Linked DNA regions of Homo sapiens: region 1 is linked to region 2. A link means that fine-mapping ties the variant in region 2 to the expression of a gene that starts in the linked region. Tissue or cell type: pancreas. Region 2 holds a variant in brackets; the other region holds the start of a gene. All regions are shown on one strand. Distances are from middle to middle.

Region 1 (8,000 bases), 26 kb after region 2:
CAGCCTGGCCAACGTGGCAAAACCCTGTCTCTACTAAAAATACAAAAATTAGCCAGTCCTGGTGGTAGGTGCCTCTAATCCCAGCTACTCGGGAGGCTGAGGCAGGAGAATCGCTTGAACCCAGGAGGCGGAGGTTGCAGTGAGCTGAGATTGCGCCCCTGCACTCCAGCCTGGGCAACAGAGCAAGACTCTGTCTCAAAAAAAAAAAAAAAAAAAAATTTAAAGCGATGGCCTCACACTGCCCCCTGCCAGGCGCAGCAAGGGCAGCTCTCCTAGGTGCCTCCGGCTCAAGTCACCCATCCTGGCTGTGTCTTGGCTGCAAGGGGCACACAAAGGGGGAATGGTTCATGCAGACTGAGGACAGCGACACCAAGACAGGGGAGAGAGCAGGCCCAGAGCAGGAAAAAGCCCATGCCACCCGCCTTCTTGGGAAGAAACCAGGAGAGTGAGGTTAACTCTCTAGGCACCCCCACAGCAGGGTCTGGTGCCGGAAGCTGATGGTGCCTGGCCCCTTCCTTGGACTAAAGGAACTAGTGGCACACCTGCAGGCCACCATGGGGCTCCCACCCTCCAACAGGTTCTGGACTGGGGGCACCTCTGCTCCTCAGGGGGCTCTTGGCCAAGTCTAGAGACATTCTGGGTTGTCACCACTGGGCAGGGGGTGCACAGGGCAGCCCCACAGCCAAGAGCTATGTGACTCCAGATACCAAGTGCGCCAGTGCTGAGACACCCTCCTCTGCGCCACGAGCATGGGCACAGCCCTTGGGGGTCTACTGGGCCAAGGGGAAGGCAAGGGAAGGCAGGTGTGTGCACGCTGGGTCATTCTCCTCTCTGAACAGCAGGGACATCATTCCCTAATTACACTGTCCCACGAGGGAAATCTGAAATCCTGCCAGGAGAAAATCTTTGAGAAAAGAATAGATTTTTTTTTTTTAAGAAAAACTGCCTAAGTTTGTCTATTGCAAGCTCTCAGGGCCAGGTATCTGATCCCTGTCCAATGAAGGTAAGAGCAGGAGGTGGCGGGGGCTGGGGTACTGCCACCTGCCCGTCTCAGCTTACCCGGCTGAGCTTTCTCAGCTCAGGGTCTCCTTCTCACAGGCCCCTTCCAGCCTGTCCCCCGCCCTGGCCCTGCCCTCAAGCCTCGGCCTACTTCGGCTCCTCGCCCCTTCCCCACCCCTTCTCTTTCTCGGGCCTGTCTACCCTCACTCCCCCAGCATCTGAATCAATGCTTTTGAAAGACTGCCCCCTGCCGGAGACAAGGGGCGAGGACACGCTGGGCCCGGGTGCTCCAGTAGGCGCCAGGGCGCGCGGGAAAGGGAGCCTGCTCTCTGGGGCTCAGAACTCAAGAGAGAAAGAAAAGACAGAGAACAGGCGGTCCCAGTGCACATTCAGCTAAGAACATTATCTCCTCACTCCATCACCCCTAAAATTAGCTCCAACACAGAGCACTGTGCCTTGGCACAGAACAGAGCCACTTAAACAGAAGCACAGTCCCCAATTCCTCAACACTGGAACAACCGCCCAGCCCCAGGCCTGCTGGAGGGGACCTGGCCCTTTCTCAGGATGGAGATTCTCCAAGCGTGGTAGGGTGAGGACGCTGAGGCTTAAAAAAGAGATGCAAACCCGCATTCTTCGCGGCTGGTCGGTTATCCCAGCTCTCTCCTCTCTGAGCCATCCCAGCAAATCACACCACCGCTTGGCAATTGTCTACAAGTTAACAGTTTTCAAAGGATTTTCACTCTTTACCTCCTGTGATCCCTTTTGCCCACTTGCCCAGCCTTGGGCTCCAGCCAGGGAAAAGAAGGAGGAAGCTGCTCCGACAGCGTGCCCCGACATCCTTGACACTATGCAAGACTGGAGGTGCGCACGGTAGCAGTAACCATCCCAAACTCGCAAGCATTATTCTGTGAGTTTGAAGCCATTTTACATTTGTTAGACTTTCAACATCCTTCATCTAGCCTCCTCCTCTCATCTTCTCTCCTCTAAAGTGGGCTATTTTTCTTTAATTCCCAAATTCCAATAGCAGATGTAAAAGTTAGGGCTAACGCATCAGATCACGAACACAAGACTGATGTGTCCAACAGCAGAAAAAGCTAGTCCAGAAGTTTAAGCACATGGTCCACTTGACTAACCACCACGTGGGACCCTCAGGGCCCCTGGTCCCCAGGCAATGGCAGGGACACCAAGGCCAGGTCTACCCTCAAATCCTTCCCAATGGCACGACAGACCGCTGGGGGACCAAGACCTACAATCTAAGAAAATCAGATTGGAGCTGGCTAGCCTGGTGGAGGGTGGCTAGCCTAGGTCTGCAAAGGGCACAGGAAAGATGGGAAGGAGAAAGAACCCCAAATCCCCCATGTCGGCAGCAAAGGAGAGACCCTTACTGGTACCACCGATGGTGTTTCCATGCCAAAGGCGAGGGGTTGGCGGGGTTCTAAATTGAAACTTCTATATAGACTCGAAGAGGCAGTGCACAAGAGGGTGGGAAAGCTGACGATCTTCCAGAACGACACTTTGAGAGGCAGGAGGGAAGTAAGGCTTGGGTGGCTGGAAAAAAAAAATCCAATCCAGCTAACAAGTCTTTATGTAGCATCTCCTAGTTCCTAGCACTAGGATGCAACAGACCTGGAGTCTGACCGGGAATGCGAGTAATGACTGTATAACAGAGAAGAGAGACGAGGGGCTTTTAAAAAGTTACTCGGAAATTTTTTTGTTTTTTTTTTTTTTTAAGGCAAAGTGTGAGAGCTGTGGCCAGGGAGCTGCTGCACGGAGGGGCATGAGCTGAGAAGGGCCTGGCCTGGGACGGGGAGGACAAGCAGTCTCTGCTAAGGAAGGTATTTCCCGCGGCCGAGCAACTGGGAAGAAGGAGACCCCAATGACCCAGCACTAAGATCGCCGGAGCGAAAGGAAACAGAGGTGAGGAGGACCCAGGCGAGGTGCCTGGGTGGAGGGCAAGGCTTCCATGTTGGCCAAAGTCGTGGAACGCTTGGACCTGGGGAACCGCAAGGCCCAGCTCGTTCCGAGGGGAACCCAAAGGCGCGCTGGGGAGAACTCCGGGAAGCGCGGGGCCCGGCCACCCTAGGACGCTAGGGTCGGGGGCCCCCAGGCGGCCCAGGGCAGGGCTTGGCAGGGGCCCGGGGGCGACCGTTAGGAGCGCGGGGGTGGAAGGCAGCGCGCCGGCCCGGGAGGACGGCGTGCCCTTCAGGGAGGGGCGCCAGGTGCGAGGGGGGCGAGCGGTCGCCCCCTAAGCCGGGCGCCGGCCTCCCGGGGCCTCCCCGAGGCTGGCCGGCTCTGGGGGAGGGTCCCGGCGGCGGGGATGGGCCGGAGCGGGCGGGAGAGCGGGAGGACGCACCGGGCTGCGGCGGCCTCGGGGAGGAGACGGGGGAGGGTCCTCGCTGGCGGCCCGCGCGCTGGCTCCGGCGCTTCTCTAGCTCGCGGGCTCGGCGCGGCCGCCGCGGCGTCGGGGGCGGGCCTGCCCCGGGGCTGGGCTGCGGGCCGGGGGCCGCGGGGCCACTGGGCGCTTACCGCGGGCGGCGCGAGGGTCCGGTCCCGGGGCGTGGGCGGCGCGCGGCGGGCGGGGGCCGGGGACGGCGACGGCGGCTAGCAGCGGGGGAGGGGGCGCTGGCGCTCCCGCGGCGGCCGCTCCTCTGTGTTTGTGTTTGTAGCAAGATGGCTGCCCGCCTCGCACCACGTGACGCGGACGCGGGGCCGCGGGGCCGCCCCTTCCACCGCCGCCGCCGCCGCCGCCGCCGCCGCCGCCGCCGCCGCCGCCGCCGCCGCCGCCGCCGCCGCCGCCGCCTCCCTCCGCGGCTCCGGCCCGCGCCACCTCTCCTCGTGCGCTGCTCGCGTGCCGCGCGCGCCACTGCCCGGACGCCCGTCGCCCCCGACAGCCCCCCCCCTCCCCGCCCCGACACGTGACCTGGGCGCCCGGCTGGTCACGTGACGGGGGCCCCCAGCTGCGGGCGGGATCGGCCCCAGAGCGGCCTCCTCTCCCCCACCTCCCCCGGCCCCGCGACGCGCGACCTCTGGGACCGAGGCCGCGGCCTCCCTGGCGGTCCGGTTTCCTCCAGGAAGCCCGCCTGGATGACAGGAGACAATAAAATCCAGAACCCTTCATCAGGCGTCCTGGGATGTGTGAAATAAGTGGCTCAGGCAAATAAGTTGACTCTCAGGAGCCTCTTTATTTTTTTAATTATTTATTTAATTATTGAGACAGAGTGTTGCTCTGTCCCCCAGGTTGCAGTCCAGTGGCGCGATCTCGGCTCACTGCAGCCTCCGCCTCCCGGATTCAAGTGATTCTCATGCCTTGGCCTCCCGAGTAGCTGAGATTACAAGCACACACCACCACGTTTGGCTTATTTTTGTTGGCCAGGCTGGTCTAGAACTCCTGACCACTCAAGTGATCCGCCTGTCTCGCCCTCCCAAAGTGCTGGGATTACAGGCGTGAGCCACCGCGCCCGGCCCCTATTTATTTATTTTTTTGAAGCAGGGTCTCACTCTGTTGCCCCAGCTGCAGTGTACTAGCCCGATCTCGGCTTACGGCAGCCTCCAACTCCCGTGTCTCAAGCGATCCTCCCATCTCAGCCTCCTGAATTGTTGGGACTATAGGTGTGCACCATCACACCCAGATAACTTTTTTATTCTCTGTAAAGACTGGGCGGGTGGCGTGTCTCATAACATTGCCCAGGCTGGTCTTGAACTCCTGGTCTCAAGGGATCCTCCTGCCACAGCCTCTTGAGTAGCTGGGACTACAGCTGTGTGCCACCACACCCAACTAATTTTTTTAATTTATTGTATTTGTTGTTTGTTTGTTTTCCAAGACAGAGTCTTGCTCTGTCGCCCAGGCTGGAGTGCAGTGGCGCGATCACGGTTAACTGCATCCTGCGCCTCCTGGGCTCAAGCAATCCTCCTGCCTCAAGCACCCTGAGTAGCTAGGACTACCAGGGCACACCACCACGCCCAGCTTTTTTTTTTTTTTTTTTTTTTTTTTTGTAGAGACAGGGTTTCCCCCATGTTGCCCAGGCTGGTCTTGAACTCCTGGACCCAAATGATCCTCCTTCCAAAGTGCCGGGAACTCCTGGACCCAAATGGATCCTCCTTCCAAGGTGCCGGGATGACAGGCATGAGCCGCCACGCCTGGCCTCTCAAAAGCCTCCGTTTCTCTTACAGAAGGATGTTAACACTGCTCTGCACCCAACCCCCGACCCCCAACTCCACACTCTTCCTTGAGTGCTGTAAGAATTAAAATAAGTGAATGTGAAAGGCTTTGACAAGAGAGAAACTGCTATGCAAATGTGAGGTGACTGAAACCCCCTTTGTTTAAAAAAAGGACTTTTCAAGAATGACTCGCTGAACTTTTTCAAGGCTCAAAAGTTCCGCGTATGCTTTCACCTTTTTCTTTGGAAGTTACTCCAGAATGTATACCTTACTTCCCAGAAGCCTAAAAGAGCTGTCGCCCAACACAATGTAATCCTCAAAACAAGGAAAAGGTAAGTTCATGACTTGGAATTTGAGTGCCTGGTGTCTTGCCATGATAGAGTGTTGACTTCAGGAACTATTATACCTGGAACAACTTTTGTTTCCCCCACCAAGTACCACTAGGCTTCTCTGCACTTGGAGTTTTCCTGTCTGTTTTCCTTTTTTAACTATTTTATTTATTTAAGAGACAGGGTCTTGCTCTGCTGCCCAGCCTGGAGTGCAGTGGCACAATCAGCTCACTGCAGCATCGACCTCCTAGGCTTAAGTGATCCTCCCTCCTCAGCCTCCCGAGTAGCTGGGATTGCAGGGAGTGGCACACCACCATACCCGGGTATTATTTATTATTTATTTTTTTTTTGAGAAAGAGTCTCACCCTGTTGCCCAGGCTGGAGTGCAGTGGCGTGATCTCAGCTCACTGCAACCTCCGACCCCAGGTTCAAGCAGTTCTCGTGCCTCAGCCTCCCAAGTAGCTGGGATTACAGGTGTGTGCTACCATGCCTGGCTAATTTTTGTATTTTTAGTAGAGACAGGGTTTCACCATGTTGGCCAGGCTGGTCTCGAACTCCTGAACTCAGGTGATCTACCTGCCTCAGCCTCCAAAAGTGCTGGGATTACAGGCACGAGCTACTGTGCCTGGCCCAGCTATTATTTTTTACTTTTAAATTTTTGTACAGACTGAAGTATCACTATGTTGCCTGGGCTGTTCTCGAACTCCTGGGCTCAAGCAGTCCTTCCATATTGGCCTCCCAAAGTGTTGGGATTACAGGCATGAGCCACTGTGCCTGTCCTGCTGTCTGTTTTTATATTTTATTTAATATTTTAATTTTTTTCGAGACGGAGTTTCGCTCTGTCGCCCAGGCTGGAGTACAGTGGCGTGATCTCAGCTCACTGCAACCTCCACCTCCTGGGTTCAAGTGATCCTCCCACCTTAGTCTCCTGAGTAGCTGAGACTACAGACAGGCGCCACCATGCCCAGCTAATTTTTGTATTTTTGGTAGAGATGGAGTTTCACCGTTTTGGCCAGGCTGGTCTCAAATTCCTGGCCTCAAGTGATCCTCCCGCCTTGGCCTCCCAAAGTGTTGGGATTACAGGCGTGAGCCACCGTGCCCTGCCAGCTAGCTTCCTTTCTCAAAGAGGGAGTTTATAGGCTTTAATTTCTGCTGACTTCAGCATCAGTGTTCACACTTTACAGTTGGTGGGGATTACTTGTCCAAAGTCACACATTGGTGTCCAGGAGATCCAGGGAGACCCCTCTGGTCTTCCACCGTGATTGTATTAGTCAGTTCTCATGCTGCTAATAAACCTTGTCCTTCCTTGAGCCCAGAAGCCTGGGCAACAAAATGAGTTCTTGACTCAAAAAGAGAGAAAAGTGAAAAAATATAATAAAAAACAAAAAAGAACTGTGAGTCTCCCATGAAGAATTTAAAAATTACAAAGAAATCACTTGGACCTAATTGGCCGGGCATGGTGGCTCACACCTGTAATCCCAGCACTTTGGGAGGCTGAGGCAGGTGGATCACCTGAGGTTGGGAGTTCAAGACCAGCCTGACCAACATGGAGAAACCCCGTCTCTACTAAAAATACAAAATTAGCCAGGCGTGGTGGCACGTACCTGTAATCTCAGCTACTAGGGAGGCTGAGGCAGGAGAATCGCTTGAACCTAGGAGGCGGAGGTTGCGGTGAGCAGAGATCACGCCATTGGACTCCAGCCTGGGCAACAAGAGCGAAACTCCATCTCAAAATAAAGAAATCATTTGGAGCTAATGTGTTTTTGTTTGTTCAGGTGCTGCTCTGTAAAATGTCTTGGTCTGTGTTCTAAATTTGCAAACTTTTTAACTAAACAAAGAGATTTGTTTGGAAGGTTAATGGAGATGAAAGAGTGGTCTCACGCAGACCAAACAGCCAGCCTCTGCCTTTCTTTTCTTTTTCTTTTCTTTTTTTTTTTTTTTTTTTTGAGACAGAGTCTTGCTGTGTTGCTCAGGCTGGAGTGCAGTGGTGCAACCTCCGCTCCTCCGGGTTCAAGCGTCTTGTATTTTTAGTAGAGATGGGTTTTGCCATGTTGGTCAGGCTGATCTCAAACTCCTGACCTCAGGTGATCTGCCTGCCTCAGCCTTCCAAAGTGCTGAGATTACAGGCGTGAACCACCGTTCCTGGCCCTTTTTCTTTCTTTCTTTTCTTTGAAACGGAGTCTCCCTCTGATGCCCAGGCTGTAGTGCAGTGGCACGATCTTGGCTCACTGCAAGCTCCGCCTCCCGGGTTCATGCCATTCTTCTGCCTCAGCCTCCCGAGTAGCTGGGACTACAGGCACCCACCACCACGCCTGGCCAATTTTTTGTATTTCTAGTAGAGACGGGGTTTCACCGTGTTAGCCAGGATGGTCTCGATCCCCTGACCTCGTGATCCACCTGCCTTGGCCTCTTAAAGTGCTGGAATTACAGGCATGAGCCACCACGCCCGCCCCGCCCCCACTTTTTTTTTTTTAATGGCAGATTCCTCTTCAGTGTTTTCCTTTGATGAAATGT
Region 2 (8,000 bases):
TTCGAGACCAGTCTGGCCAACATGGTGAAATGCCGTCTCTGCTAAAAATACAAAACTTAGCCGGGTGTGGTGGCACACACCTGTAATCCCAGCTACTCAGGGGCTGAGACAGGAGAATCACTTGAACCCAGGAGGCGGAGGTTGCAGTGAGGTGAGATCGCACCACTGCACTCCAGCCTGGATGACAGAGCGAGACTCCCTCTCAAAAAAAACAAAAACAAAAAGAAAACAAAAGGAAAAAAAAGATGGCAGAGATGTCCCCACAGTCCTGGAGTATCTATTTTGAGGTTAAGTCACTGAATTTTGGGGAATTCTTTGTTATAGCCGCTTCGCCTATACCCTAACTGACCATCCTTTGGATATGGGGAGGGAAGGCATGGGAAATATCTGAGTGGGTGCTGGTGCTGTCAACTGGGCCAGGATATTCAGGGAAGGGGTAAGGTTGGGCAGGGTTGGGCTCAGGGGAAGATGATTAACTTAGTTTTGAATATGTTGAATGTGAAATGTCTGTGAACAGTGGTGTGTAGTAAATGGTTTTTTGTTTGTTTGTTTTGAGACAGGGTGTTGCTCTGTCACTCAGGCTGGAGTGCAGTGGTGCGATCATAGCTTACTGCAGCCTCCAACTTCTGGGCTCAAGCAGTCCTCTCACCTCAGCCTCCTGAGTTGCTGGGACTACAGGCATGCCACCAAACCTGGATAATTTTTAATCTTTTTTTTGAAGATGGGGTCTCGCTGTGTTGCCCAGGCTAGTCTCAAACTCCTGGTGGTGAGCCACCATTCCTAACAACCAGCTCTTCAAAAAGGGGGAGCCCTGATCGGAAGCATTTGCCAATGTCCATGACGTAAACAGTCACACCTTGGCTGAGTTCAAGTTCCTACTATCTTATTTTATTTTATTTTATTTTTTTTGAGATGGAGTTTCGCTCTTGTCACTCAGGCTAGAGTGCAATGGCGCTATCTCGGCTTACTGCAACCTCCACCTCTTGGGGTCAAGCGGTTCTCCTGCCTTAGCCTCTTGAGTAGCTGGGATTACAGACACCCGCCACCACGCCCAGCTAATTTTTTTGTATTTTTTAGTAGAGACGGAGTTTCACCATGTTGACCTCAGGTGATCCACCTACCTGGGCCTCCTAAACTGCCGGGATTACAGGCGTGAGCCACCGCGCCCAGCTCTTCAAGTTTCTGCTACCAAGATGCCTTCACTGAATAAGGAGCTGGGTGTACAATGGGCACTCGTGACCTGGCATGAGCGGATGCCAGCATGCCACTGTCCACGGGCATCTAAGTGGGGATATTCAGTCAGCCATTGGATGTACACCAAGTCGGCACACGGGGAAGAGACATCTGGGCTGGAGACAGTAATGGATGAAGTCACCAATGAATAACATGGAGAGTGAGCAGAGGAGGCCAAAGTCAGTATTCTGGGAAAAACAATGTTTGCAGAGTGCCCTGAGGAGGAGGAGATGCTAAGAAGCCAGAAGAGGTAGAGGAAGGAGGCCCTGTGACCCATCAGAGCCACATCCGCCACTTGCTCTCGAGGGTCCTGCCTGCTCAGATAAGTTGGCTACTCATTGGTCATCACCTGGCAACTCTGTCCTTCCTTGCATCTGGCCAACTTCTTTTTCCTCTCTCTTTCCTCCTGCCCTCCTCATTACCATCTAAATTAGCTCCAGTAGCTCTCATCAAAACTCAAATAACGGCCAGGCGCGGCGGCTCATGCCTCTAATCCAAGCACTTTGGGAGGCTGAGGCGACTGGATCACCTGAGGTCCGGAGTTTGAGACCAGCCTGGCCAACATGGTGAAACCCTGTCTCTACTAAAAATATCAAAATGAGTTGGGCGTGGTGGCACATGCCTGTAATCCCAGCTACTTGGGAGGCTGAGGCAGGAGAATTGCTTGAACCTGGGAAGTGAAAGTTGCAGTGAACCGAGATCGCAGCACCACTGCACTCCAGCCTGAGTGACAGAGCAAGACTCTGTTTCAAAAGGAAAAAAAAAAAAATATATATATATATATATGTAATTTTTCTGTAGAGACAGGGTTTCTACAATTTTTTTTGTAGAGATGAGATCTTGCTGTGTTGTGCAAGCTGGCCTCAAGCGATCCTCTTGCCTCAGCCTCCCAAAATGCTAGGATGACAGGCACGAGCCACCACGCCCAGCCTAAAAAATATACATATCTTTTTTTTTTTTTTTAGATGGAGTTTCGCTCTTGTCGCCCAGGCTGGAGTGCAGTGGTGCAATCTCGACTCCCTGTAATCTGAGTTCCAGCAATTCTCCCGCCTCCCTCCTGAGTAGCTGGGATTACAGGCACACGCCACCATGCCTGGCTAATTTTTTGTATTTTTAGTAGAGATGAGGTTTCACCATGTTGCCCAGGCTGGTCTCGAACTCCTGACCTCAAGCGATCCTCCTGCCTCAGCCTCCCAAAAACGTTGGGATGACAGGCATGAGCCACCGCGCCCGGCCTAAAAAACCCCGACTATCTTGATTCCACTTCCTCTTCTCACTGCTGCACCAGCTTTGTACATGGTCCCCGGCCAAGCTGAGATACCCAAAGTCTGGTCCACGTTGTTTTTCTCCACTGCATCATTTCTCACTCACCCATTGCAAATGCCGTAGGCAGAGCTACAGTGGCTTCTACCCAATCCACTGCACACTTCTCAGGGCAGGCTTGCTTCATGTCTCTGCAGCCTTCAGCACAGTTTCCCATTCCTTTTTTGGAACACTCTTTTCTTTTGGGTTCCAGAAGTCCGCATCCTCCTGATTTTCTTCTTAGTTCGCCGGCTTCTCCTTTGGCAACTTGTTCTCCACCTGACCTCTAAATGTCGGAGTTCCTCAGAGCTTGGTCTTAGGCCATCTTGTCTTTTCCCTGCACCTCTTTATGACGTCATCTGCTAGAATGTGCCACTCACTCTTGGGGCTCTATTCCAACCCAGATTTCTCTGCTGAATTCCAGGACTGTGTCTACAGCCACCTATTAAACATTTCTCCTGGATTTCTCAAAGAACTAAAAATAGAACTACAGTTTGACCCAGCAATCTCATTACTGGGTATTTACCCAAAAGAAAAAAAATCCTTCTACCAGAAAGAAATATGCACTCGTATGTTCCTTGCAGCACTATTCACAAGAGCAAAGACATGAACTCAGCTTAGGTGCCCATCAATGGTGGACTGGATAAAGAAAATGGTACATGTATGTTATGGAATACTATGCAGCCATAAAAAGAAACAAAATGAAGAAACAAAGAAACATGTTTTTTGCAGCAACATGGATGCAGCTGGAGTCCATTCTCTTAAGTGAATTTAGAGCAGGAACAGAAAACCAAATACCATATGTTCTCACTTGTAAACAGGAGCTAAACATTGGGTACTCATGGACATAAAGACGGCATCAATAGACACTGGGGACCACTAGGGGGAAGAAGGAAGAAGA[T/C]GGGGCAAGGGTTGAAAACTATTAATACCTAATGGGGCCAGGCATGGTGGCTCACGCCTGTAATCCCAGCACTTTGGGAGGCCAAGGCAGGTAGATCACTTGAGGCCAGGAGTTCAAGACCAGCCTGGCTATCATGGCGAAACCCCATCTCTACTTAAAATACAAAAATTAGCCAGGTGTGGTGGTGCACACCTGTAATCCTAGCTACTTGGGAGGCTGAGGCAGACGAACCACTTGAACCCAGGAGGCGGAGGTTGCAGTGAGCTGAGATCGTGCCATTGCACTCCAGCCTGGGCAACAGAGCAAGACCCTGTCTCAAAGAAAAAAAGAAAAAGAAAAACTACCTATTGGGTACCGTGCTCATTACATGGGTGATGGGATCAATCGTATTCCAAACCTCAGTGTCACACAATTTACCCATATAACAAACCTGCACACGTACCCCGTGAATCTAAAATAAAAGTTAAAAAAAACAAAAAAAGAGGCCGGGCACAGTGGCTCACGCCTGTAATCCCAGCACTTTGGGAGGCTGAGGCAGGTGGATCACGAGGTAAGGAGATCGAGACCATCCTTGCTAACACGGTGAAACCCCGTCTCTACTAAAAATACAAAAAATTAGCCGGGCCTGGTGGCACGTATCTGTAGTCGCAGCTACTCAGGAGGCTGAGGCAGGAAAATCACTTGAACCCAGGAGGCAGAGGTTGCAGTGGGCCGAGATTGCGCCACTGCACTACAGCCTGGGCGACAGAGCGAGATCCGGCTGAGTGCGGTGGCTCACACCGGTAATCCCAGCACTTTGGGAGGCTGAGGCTGGCGGATCGCTTGAGGCCAGGAGTTCGAGACCAGCCTGGGCAACATGACAAAACCCTGTCTCTACAAAAAAAAATACAAAAAATTAGCCAGGCATGGTGGTGTGCACCAGTAGTTCCATCTACTGGGGAGGCTGAGGTGAGAGGATCATCTCAGCCCAGGAGGTCGAGGCTGCAGCAAGCTGTGATTGCGCCACTGCACTCCAGTCTTGGTGACAGAGTGAGACCCTGTCTCAAAAAAAACAAAACCAAAAACACCAAAAAAAATTTTCTCCATAGGCACTTCAAACCTAAAACTTCCCAATCTTAAACTCTTGATCTTCCTCCCAGAATATGTTCCATCTCAAATGTTCTGCTCGAAGTAAACAATACCTCCAGGCCAAGCACTGTTATTTTTTCATTTTTGTTTGTTTGTTTTGTTTTGTTTTGTTTTGAGACAGGGCCTGGCTCTGTCACCCAGGCTGGAGTGCGGTGGCAGAAATTCAGCTCACCACAACCTTTGCCTCAGGAGTTCAAGTCATCTTCCCACCTCAGCCTTCCGAGTAGCTGGGACTACAGGCGCACGCCACCATGTATTTCTTTCTTTCTCTCTCTTTTTTTTTTAACGACGTAGTCTTGCTATGTTGCCCAGGCTGGTCTTGAACTCCTGGACTCAAGTGATCCGCCCACCTCTGCCTCCCAAAATGCTGGGATTACAGGTGTGAGCCACCACGCCTGACCCTAATCCATATTTCAATGCCCATCTGCCTCCTCTATAGATTGCAAGCTCCATGAGGAGGGTGCACCTGTCATTCAAGGTTGCATCCTCATTGCCTAGGGCAGTGCCTGATACATCATCCGGTTCAGTAAATATCAACGGAATGAGTTAAAACAGGAAAGCTTATTAGCACAGAAACCAAAGCAGCACACATGCCCTCTTGAGATTGACAAAATTGTGCTGTAGTCCTGCGCTGCTTGTTGTTAAGTGACTTTAGGGAAGTCATCGTGGCCATCTACAGATTGAGGAAATCAACGTAATTATCTCTGAGGTCCCTCCCAAATTCTCATGTGTAGTTGACATCTGTTATCTATTGCTTATATGTCACTGAATTGGCAGGTATGCATAAATAGAATTTGCATCTAACTACGAATACGATTGTTTATATTTTCTTTAAAAAAATATTGGGCTTTTGTTTCTCATATTGAGAGCTCTGTTATGCCATTTTCGAATTTCTCCCAGATGTCCCCCCCGGCCCACCTTCAAACTCTGCTTCCTTAGACAGATTTGGCAATAGCTTTGTAAGTGATATGGACATAATTGCCTAAAATAATGAAAACCTACAGGATTCTTTTTTCATTTTCCCTTTGGCATGTTTACAATTCCCTGCCCCACCAGGCAGATCATTCTGTGTGTGTGAGTGTGTGTACCCATTACAAAGACAACTACTATGTTCATAACATATTCGATTTGGAAAAAACAATTGTAGGCTGGGCACGGTGGCTGACATCTGTAATCCCAGCACTTTGGGAGGCCGAGGCGGGCAGATCACGAGGTCAGGAGTTCAAGACCAACCTGGCCAACATGAAACCCCATCTCTGCTAAAAATGCAAAAATTAGCCAGGCCTGGTGGCATGCTCCTATAATCCCAGCTACTCGGGAGGCTGAGACAGGAGAATCGCTTGAACCCAAGAGGCAGAGGTTGCAGTAAGCCGAGATTGTGCCATTGCACTCCAGCTCTGGGTGACAGAGCAAGACTCCATTTCAGAAAAAAAAAAAAAAGAAAAAAGAAAAAACAATTGTTTTTGAAAAGTGATTTGTAATGTCTTTCACAGAGACTAAATGAAGAGTATGTTTTGATACTTTTTAAAATATAATTTCATCTTTTTAGATTCTGACTCATGTGCACATGAATGTACCCATGTACATGGGTATATCTTGTGATGCTGAAGTTTGGGGTACAATTGATCCCGTCACCTGGGGTACAGTACCCAATAGGTAGTTTTTCAACCCTTCCCCCCTCTAGTAATCCCCCGTGTCTATTGTTCCCATCTTTATGTTCATGAGTACCCAGTGTTTAGCTCCTACTTATAAGTGAGAACATGCAGTGTTTGGTTTTCTGTTCCTGCAGAAATTTATCCACTTAGGATAAAAGCCTCTAGCTGCATCCATGTTACTGCAAAGGACACGATTTCTTCTTCTTTTCTTTTCTTTTGTTTCTTCTTTCTTTCTTTCCCTTCCTTCCTTCTCTCTTTTCTTTCTCTTTCTCTCTCTCTCTCTTTTCTGCATCCATGTTGCTGCAAAGGACATGATTTCTTCTTTTTTCTCTCTTCCTTTCTCTTTCCTTTCTTTTTTTCTTTCCTTCCCTTCCTTCCCTCCTTTTCTTTCTTTTACTTTTTCTTCTTTTGTCTTTCTTTCTTCTTCTTGAGTCAAAGTCTTGCTCTGTTGCCCAGGCCGGAGTGCAGTGAGTGGTGTGATTTTGGCTCACTGCAACCTCCGCCTCCCGGGTTCAAGCAATTCTCCTGCCTCAGCCTCCTGAGTAGCTGGGATTACAGGTGTGTGCCACCACGCCCAGCTAATGTTTGTATTTTTAGCAGAGACGGGGTTTCACCATATTGGCCAGGCTTGTCTCAAACTCCTGACCTCAAGTGATCCACCCGCCTCGGCCTCTCACAGTGCTAGGATTACAGGCGTGAGCCCCATCTCGTTCTTTCTTATGGCTGCGTGTTTTGATACTTTCAAATTACAAGGACTCAGTGAAGGCTATTCGTTGCCTTGAACTTCCCAAAGCATTTCCACAATCGATGGGGTTCTCAGTAAGAATCCGGGACTTGGAGGGCAGATGCTGTCAACATCCCCATTTAACAGATGTGGAAACTGAGGCCTAGACCTACGTTCTTGTCCCTTTACAGGCAAGGTCCCTGGAGGAAGGGGTTCATCTAGAGGCTCATACAGATAAACTGGAATGTACAGTAAAGTTTTGGCTGCCTGGGTTCATATCTAAACTCTGCAGCCTCAGGTCTCTTTCCACTATTAGAAAATGGGGAGAAGGCTGGGCGCGGTGGCTCACGCCTGTAATCCCAGCACTTTGGGAGGCCGAGACGGGCACATCACCTGAGGTCAGGAGTTTGAGACCAGCCTGGCCGACATGGTGAAACCTCGTCTCTACTAAAAATACAAAAAAAAATTAGCTGGGCATGGTGGCGGGCGCCTGTAATCCCACCTACTCCAGAGGCTGAGGCAGGAGAATCGCCTGAACCCAGGAGGCGGAGGTTGCAGTGAGCCGAGATCATGCCACTGCACTTCAGCCTGGGCGACAGAGTGAGACCCTGTCTCCAAAAAAAAAAAAAAGAAAAGAAAAGAAAATGGGGAGAATGTTAGCACTTAATTTCCCAGTATTGTGAGACTTAACATATGTCAGCCTGGGCAGCATAGCAAGACCCCACCTCTACCAAAAATTTAAAAATTAGCTGGGCATGGTGGCTGGGGCACGCCTGTGGTCCCAGGTACTAGGGAGGCTGAGGCAGGAAGATCACTTGAGCCGAGGAGATTGAGGTGGCAGTGACCTACAATCGCGTCACTGTACTCCAATTAAAAAATAAGTGTCGGGCCAGGCGCGGTGGCTCACGCCTGTAATCCCAGCACTTTGGGAGGCCGAGACAGGCAGATCACGAGGTCAGGAGATGGAGACCATCCTGGCTAACACCGTGAAACCCCGTCTCTACTAAAAATACAAAAAATTAGCCGGGTGTGGTGGCACACGCCTGTAGTCCCAGCT

Alleles and levels. Alleles are on the strand shown, and positions count from the first base shown. SD is a standard deviation of normalised expression in the study named.
As copies of C replace T in region 2, the expression in pancreas of the gene that starts at base 3,666 in region 1 goes down (moderate effect, 0.48 SD a copy in GTEx).

Evidence for each region. PIP is the estimated chance that this variant, and not a neighbour inherited with it, causes the effect.
Region 1: it holds the start of GIGYF1, and the variant in region 2 is fine-mapped to the expression of GIGYF1 in pancreas (GTEx, PIP above 0.99).

Annotation. Positions count from the first base shown.
Region 1 is chr7:100,690,585-100,698,584 of GRCh38, forward strand. GIGYF1 (GRB10 interacting GYF protein 1) reads right to left here and starts at 3,666. Exons shown (of 27, transcript NM_001375765.1): 1 at 3,526-3,666. RefSeq lists silencers at 1,163-1,332, 3,095-3,214, 3,385-3,484, 3,925-4,084, a cis regulatory region at 2,740-4,233 and an enhancer at 4,772-5,575.
Region 2 is chr7:100,665,022-100,673,021 of GRCh38, forward strand. LOC105375429 (a long non-coding RNA gene) reads left to right here. Exons shown (of 3, transcript NR_133946.1): 3 at 1,081-1,405. Among named protein-coding and RNA genes, the nearest start is that of GNB2, 4.7 kb to the right of the region's middle. The variant T/C (reference allele first, on the strand shown) is at 3,437.